Homo sapiens: one gene and its partner. The protein of the gene in region 2 interacts with the protein of the main gene of each other region in a biochemical or structural test. Each region holds a gene or a part of one and is shown on either strand. Other genes may lie near its edges.

The links.
Region 1: the proteins of RYR3 (region 2) and HNF1A form a complex in vitro, tested with the Homo sapiens proteins (one large-scale study listed by BioGRID).

What each region holds. Positions count from the first base shown.
Region 1 is NC_000012.12:120,992,028-120,995,852, reverse strand, and holds part of HNF1A (hepatocyte nuclear factor 1-alpha), read right to left. Parts: intron 2,334-3,825; coding exon 2,147-2,333; intron 1,690-2,146; coding exon 1,448-1,689; intron 1-1,447. UniProt on the Homo sapiens protein: Transcriptional activator that regulates the tissue specific expression of multiple genes, especially in pancreatic islet cells and in liver. Binds to the inverted palindrome 5'-GTTAATNATTAAC-3'.
Region 2 is NC_000015.10:33,317,416-33,321,240, reverse strand, and holds part of RYR3 (ryanodine receptor 3), read right to left. Parts: intron 1-3,825. UniProt on the Homo sapiens protein: Cytosolic calcium-activated calcium channel that mediates the release of Ca(2+) from the sarcoplasmic reticulum into the cytoplasm in muscle and thereby plays a role in triggering muscle contraction. May regulate Ca(2+) release by other calcium channels.

The DNA of each region.
Region 1 (3,825 bases), on a different chromosome or scaffold from region 2:
TGTGGAGTAGAGTAGATGGAATTGAGTGGAATGAGTGGGATCAAGTGGAATGGGTACAGTCGAGTGGAGTGGTAAAGGGTGGAGAGGACGGGTGGGGAGGAATAGAGTGGAGTGGAATGGTATAGGGTGGAGTGGATGGAATGGTGAGGAATAGTGTGGCGTGGAGTGGAATGAATGGAGTGGCTAGAGTGGAATGGATGGAGTTGTGTGAACACAGTGGAGTGGAATGGTATGGAGTGGAGTGAGTGGGTTGGAGTGGAGTGAATGGAGTAGACTGGAATGGTGGAGTATGTGAATAGAGTGGAGTGGAATGGTATAGAGTGGAGTGAGTGGATGAAGTAGAGTGGAATGGATGAAATGTGGAGTCATGTGGAGTGAATGGAGTTGAGTGGATGGGACAGATAGAATAAAATGGTATGTAGTGGAGAGGAGTGGAGAGAAGAGTGGGTAGAGTGGATGGAGTGGAGTCTAATGGAGCTGGTTGGAGTGCAGTGGATGGAATGGGTGGAGTGGAGTGGATGGAGCAGAGTTGAATGAAGTAGAGGGAGTGGAGTAGATGGAGTTGAGTGAGTGGAGTGGATGGAGTGGAGCTGAATGGAGTGGATGGAGTAAGTGGATGGAATAGAGTATGGAGTGGATGGAGTAGAGTTGAATGTAGTAGATGGAGTGGAGTGGATGGAGCCAGGTATGGAGTGGATGGAGTGGAGTTGAATGTAGTGGATGGGATGAAGTTGGATGGAATGGATGGAGTGGAATGAATGGAGTGGAGTTGAATGTAGTAGATGGGATGAAGTTGGATGGAATGGATGGAGGGGAGTGGATGGAGTAGAGTTGAATGTAGTAGATGGAGTACAGTGGATGGAGTGGAGTTGAATGTACTGGATGGGATGAAGTTGGAGGGAATGGATGGAGTGGAGTGGATGGAGTGGAGTTGAATGTAGTAGATGGGATGAAGTTGGATGCAATGGATGGAGTGGAGTGGATGGAGTAGAGTTGAATGTAGTAGATGGGATGAAGTTGGATGGAATGGATGGAGTGGAGTGGATGGATGGGGTAGAGTTGAAGGTAGTAGATGGAGTAGAGTGGATGGAGTGGAGTTGAATGTAGTGGATGGGATGAAGTTGGACGGAGTGGAGTGGATGGAGTGGAGTTGAGTGGAGTGAATGGAGTAGAGTGGATGGAGTGGAGTCGAAGGTAGTGGATGGAGTGGATGGAATGGGGTTAATTGTGGTGGATGGAGTGAATAGAGTGGAAAGGAGTAGAGTGAATGGAATGAGATAGAGTGGAATGGATGAATGAACAGAGTGAAGTAGAGTGATAAGGAGTGGCATGAATGGAATGGAACCAAACTGAAGTGCAAAGAGGTTTAGGTGACTGCTGTCACTGGGACAGTCCTCCCCAACCCTCCCACCTTCCCACGTGTCCCTTGTCCCCACATACCACTTACCGTGGACCTTACTGGGGGAGAGGGCAGGTGGAGGCAGGCCAGGGGAGCTGTGAGCGGGCAGCGCAGGTCCCGGGCCTGGCCCTGGGGGGGGCCCGCTGTACGTGTCCATGGCCAGCTTGTGCCGGAAGGCTTCTTCTTTGCGCCGGTTGGCAAACCAGTTGTAGACACGCACCTCCGTGACGAGGTTGGAGCCCAGCCCCTGTGCCTGTGATGGGGACACCCCTCTCTGGATGCATTCCGCCCTGCAGAAATAGCCACCCATGAGCCTCCAGGCCAGGCTCAGAGGAACCCTGTCCTGGGCATGAAGGGGAGGGTTCTGAGAAGCTGAGCTCTGCCGGAGGGTTTGAGGCTGGCAGATCTGGGTTCCAATGCCAGGTCTGCTGTGTGACCTTGGGCAATTGACAGTCTGTCTGACCTCAGTCTCTCCATTCATAAAGTGAGCAAAAGAGCCATAGGATTGTAGAGAGAATCGAATTGGGTGAGCATCCATGGAAGGGGTTGCTTGGTGTCCAGGGTGCAGGGGGGCTGCGAGGAATGGGCTTAGGTTCAAGTATTCTCAATTTTCTGGGCCAGGCTAAGCCAATATCAGGAGTTCTCGGCAACTGGACAGCCTTTTACAGGACCTAGAGTCACCTTCCCCTTCCCTGGCCTTGCCGCAGCCCAGACCAAACCAGCACTGTTTCCCGCCCGCCGTTGTACCTATTGCACTCCTCCACTAGCGTCTCTCGCTCCTCCTTGCTAGGGTTCTTCTGCCTCTCATAGGCCTGGAACAGGATCTGCTGGGATGCTGGGCCCCACTTGAAACGGTTCCTCCGCCCCTTCTTGGTTGGTAGCTCATCACCTGTGGGCTCTTCAATCAGCCCTCCCTGCCCTGCATGGGTGAACTCTGCAGGCACAGAAAGCCGTGAGTGGGGTACTGGCCACTCTCACCTTCCCACGTCCATTCCCCTGACCTTGCCCTTGATTCTTTCTCATTGCCATGGCGCTGAACCAGAGGAGCTTACAGCTAGAACTTAGAAATCATCTAATCTACTGATGACAAACACACAGCACACATGCCATCACTTTCTTAACCTGTGTTCAAGGCAAACATCACTAATCAATCCCTGAATGCTTTCCTACCAACCCAAGATATGATCTCACCATCCTTCTCAGTACAAGACTGCAGGTAAGCATTAGCATTTGTTCTGATTTGGCACATTTACTATCCCCATTGTACAGATGAGGAAGCTGAGGCTCAGAGAGCTTACATATTTTTCCAGAGTCACGCAGTAGAGCAAAAATTTGAGCCATATGTCCTCAGTGTATTCAGAATTATATTCAGCTTTCCAGACTTGAAAATCAGGCTTAAAATGCAAATGTTAGCTAGAGGAAGAGACCCAGCCAGCCTTCATCAGCTGGTACCACTTTACTGGAAACTGGTCTACCAGCTTATCCCTGAGCAGGCCACCAAAGGACTGGGACACACAAGTGCTAGGACAGCACTTTATGAGAAGAGAGGAAGGTAGATTCTGAATCAGGGGCGCAGCAGCAGCAGCAGGGCCCTCACCATCTCAGTGCCAAGAAACAGCAGCGGGCATAAGTGGCTAGGACTACACACCTGCTGCACCACACCTGGCTCATTTATTCGTATTTTTTGGAGAGATGGGGTCTCCTTCTGTTGCCCAGGCTGGTCTTGAACTCTTAGGCTCAAGTGATCCTCCCACTTTTGCCTCCCAAATGTGCTGGGATTACAGGTGGGTACAACCACACCAGGCTGGGAGCTGGTAATATTCTATTTTTTATCTGTATTGGTGTGTTCACTTTGTGAAAATTCATTGAACTGTATGCTTTGGATTTGGGCACTTTTTATGTTAGACTTCATTTAAAAGTTTCTGTTATAGCAGACACAGTGATGTGTGCCTGCCATTCCAGCTACTTAAGAGGCTGAGGCAGGGATCACTTGAGCCCGGAAGTTCAAAACTAGCCTGGGCAACATGGCAAGACCTCATCTCAAAAAATAAAATAAATAAAAGTTTACATTATCAAGTATAAAAAGAGTCATTCAACTGAAAGTAGCTGAAAAGAAGAGCTCTTTTCCTTCCAAGGTTGCTAAGCTGGTAGGATGGCAGCCCAGGGCTTCCAGAACCCATCTTTGCCTATATGAGGAGAGCCTGTCTGAGAATGAAGCCAACAAAAAAGAAAAGAGTCAAGAAATGCTGTGTGAACCTCATTTGAGCCCCTTGATCTAGCCATGCCTGAAGCAGCCCTGGACTCCTCACATTGCTTCAGTCAATTCATTCCCTTTTCTGTTTAAATCCATTTGAGTTGGGGTTCTGTCCCCTGTTACTGAAAGAGTCCTAATACTACAGTCATATATTGACTCTGCATCTCAAATT
Region 2 (3,825 bases):
AAATACAGTAAATTCCCAGAGAGGTTAATTTCTACACTTAAGACATAAGTTGTAAAAAATGTCTCCCCAAAGCAAAGATGATGAATTTTTGTGTAGCTGTGGATTCTCCAAATCATGTTGCCCATCTATTGACGTGAGGAATTTAAAATTGCCCAGGGAGAAGTCAATCAGCATTTGCATCAAGAGGCTTTGCAAAGTAGACGCTCAGAGAACTGACCTCCCAATCTGTACTCCCAAGGCCATGAACATTGCAGGCTCATTTCCATTCACAAAGCCTGCTCATATTTAGAGTGAAGCAGAATGCCAGGAATCAAGACTATGGAATAATCCCAGGGGATTGTCCCTTTGTACTTTCCAATAATAAAATGACTGTGCAATGACATTTGGAATAGCTAGTGTGACTAATGTCAATGTTTACACTGTTTTGTTGAGACAATAATAAATAATATTTATTGAGGATTTACTATATGTTGAGCACTGTTCCAAGTACCTCACATGGATGAACTCATTTAATCCTTGCAACAATCCTCTCAGATAGGCACTATTATGACCCTCATTTAACATGAGAAAACAAGAACAGAAGTAAGGAAACTTCCCCAAGGTCATACCTTTCAACAGGAAAATTTTTGTACCATAGAAACATGGAAAAGTTAAATTAATTGTTATAAAGTCATCTGAAGTGACTGATATCCTTGCTACCTCAAAGTAAGTCTGAGCTCCCTCTTGACCCTGAGCTGTCAAAAACAACAAACATTAAGATGTCTTTTTCATCTATGTAACTTCCAGTAACTTGTTTAAGGCTGGGTGGAGAGTAATTGGTCAATACATGTTGAATGCACACCCTGCTTTCTTTAGATTTCATGATGTCTACATCCATATGATGATTTTAAAGGGTGTTTTAAAGACTAGCAAGATCTGAATTCATTTTGATGATAAAGCCTATCATTTATTAAGCCCATTAATCTGTCTGCCTGCCAATCTCTCTTTTATACCCTGTGATAAATGATACACTGTCTTTAAGGTTGACATTTTTATCCAAGGACCATGATGTGTATTGTGAGCCTGATCCTATCATGAAAATATTCATGCATTCTAGGGAGTGCTTTCATTCAAACAGATTTGGAGTGCTTATTTGCAGCTGCACAATGGTAGGCAGCTCAGAATCTTGCTGCAGATGTGTTTTGCTTGACTGGCAGTGTTGAGAATTTTTTTATTTGAACGTACAGATCAGGCCCGCCTCTATTTGCAAATAAAGCCTGATTTACACATTTAGCTACCTGCTTGACCCCAAAGTGTTTAGATTTGTGAACTTTCCAATCTGTAGGTACCTGAGAACTTGGCGTAAACCAAATTTAAGACCCCTGTGTTCCTGGAGTTCCTAATGTATGGCTCATACTTTAGGCTGACGGAAACATTTTCAGGGAATAGGGCAACTATTATTCCAAGCTACTCTCTCCAGATTTACATATCTAGTTCTCCTGGAGGAAATGTGGAGTTTCTTCAGGACATCTCTGAGATGTAATCATTAATTATTACCATGCCTTTACAAATGGTTGAACTAGGACCTGGGAAGGGCAGGCAATCTCACAGGCATCTGGCAATAGAAATGCTGCCAAATATAGCAAACGCTTTACCTCTGACTTTACCCATCATTTGACTAGTATGTTCTTTGCTATATTTTTCTCCTAAAATGCCTCTTGCAAAGAGATGAGATCTGTTCAAGACCTCACTATAGTTTATTCTTGAACTGTTCTCTTCTAGCCAGCCTGGACAGAAGAGAGGATTACTTGGAGGAAAACCACTGTCCTAAATTGGAACAATAGCCAAGTGTCCTGGGTGACTGAGAAGGGACTTAGGAGGGGCTTATGCTACTCCAAGACCAGCTGTCCTATTTTGATCTGATCTCTTGGATTCGGCTTCTGGTCGATATGATGTGGTAGCCAACGGGATCTCTCCTTCTGCCCCGGTATTATTTACAGTCTGGATCTGGTCCATGGTATAGAGCAACACGATTCAAATCAATACTTCTCTTCTCACACTGTGGACATTTATGTGCCATTGATGGAGAACTTTCCATTCCTTCCTGTAGTCCCGCTGACTAGCTCTCTCTGCCCAGCCCCATTAGAGAACTCAACTGTGAAATTTTCAGAGTTGATGCCAGTACCTGTCACTGGTCGGGTGCAATGCCTTTACCTTCCAGTAAGAGCTTTTTCTATTTGCTCTGTTAGGGGATAAGCAGCTCCCCTTAGCACTTTCCCTTTTTTGCTATAGGAATTGCTTTGAAATGGTTTCAGGGGCTCTGGAGCATTTGCTTGGGATTAGTATGAGTGACGTGTTAATGAATACAATAACTGATAATGAGGTTTTGTCTCTCAAACACTTTTCTACTTCAGGAAGGAGGCACCTTAGTTCTCGTTTTGATGTAGAGTCACCTTATCTTACTGTTTTCTCTGATTATGAATTATTTAAAACAAAGTATGTATTAGCACCAGTCTTGATGGTGAATAATGCTCTTCTGAATGCCTGAAGGTTGGCCACTTTCTCCCAGGTAACTCAAGCCTTCTTCTCCTCTGCTCAAAGGTCTAAATAAAGATGGAGTCTGAACCGCCATCTCCAGAACCTAGATTCCTGTGCTTTGATGTATATTTCCTACTCAAGGTTCCCCAAGCACCAATGCGGTGCCCTACTCAGGCTTGCCCCTCTCAGCAATGCCCTCATGTGCTCTCACCTTTCTCCAACCCAATTCCTGTTCCTTCAGTAATAGGCTCTGCTCAGCTGTTAATGATGTTAATCATCAGTGGTACCTGCTGAGCTAACAACTTTGCATTTCAGCATTTTAATAGGGGGAATTTCTTGAGACAGTGCTTTATCCCAAAGACAGACCAAGGAGAAAGACATCCTTCTGGGTATCTGCAAGGGTCACAGTGACACTGACACCAACCCAGACTTTCATCTCTACACTTTTATAACAGGTGTGCTGCCTTGCTCATAATACTGGCTGGTTCCTATAGCATAAAACCACTTACAAACTCAACTCAGTAGAAAAACTGTTGATGGCCTGTACAATTCTGCACAGGCAGCAGCAGCTCTGTCTCCAGAGCTCTCTCTGCCTCCTTTGCACTCTGAAATAAGCAGCAGCAAGCAGCTGTCACCCCAGAGGGAAGAGCTCATGTTGAGTGTAATTTCTGAATCTCTTTGTAATCTGATTTTAGGATAGAGTGTTTGCTTTCCTTCTTCTTGGGCATTGAATCCAATAATAGTAAGATTCCTCAAGTATTGACAAGACTGCACAGGAGCAGAGAGACCTGAAATCAATGAGGAGTTCACTGTATAGGGAGGTGGAAGGTGAAAAAAGAAGGCCCTGGTGTCTCCATGCCTCCTCCTTGTAAAGCTATGTCCCACCTCAAAGGACAATAGCCCAGAGTATGACTGTAGAGTCAGCAATGTACTCTAAGCCAGAGGAGGGGAAAAGTGCATGTGAGGAGAGGAGGTATAGCTCTTTTATTCTGGAATACTGCATCATCAGTCTCAGAGATGATCTGAACTTTGTTTTCTAACAACCGGGAATCAGAAATGACATAAACAGAAAAAAAATAATCTTGGCATCTCAAGAGGCTCATCCCTGTAGCAGGATCAGGGCTGAGGTGCCAGCACTTTTTCTTCCCTCTCTCTGAATTGAAGAGGTGCTATGATGGCAAAATTCACTGAACCAAAGGAAACTGCAGTGACTGGAAATGTCTTTGTCCCTAAAACACCCCCCCTGACTTCCAAACAAGAAGATGGCTGAGAGGACACCAGCCTGGGGCCTGGAGGACCCAGTGTGGC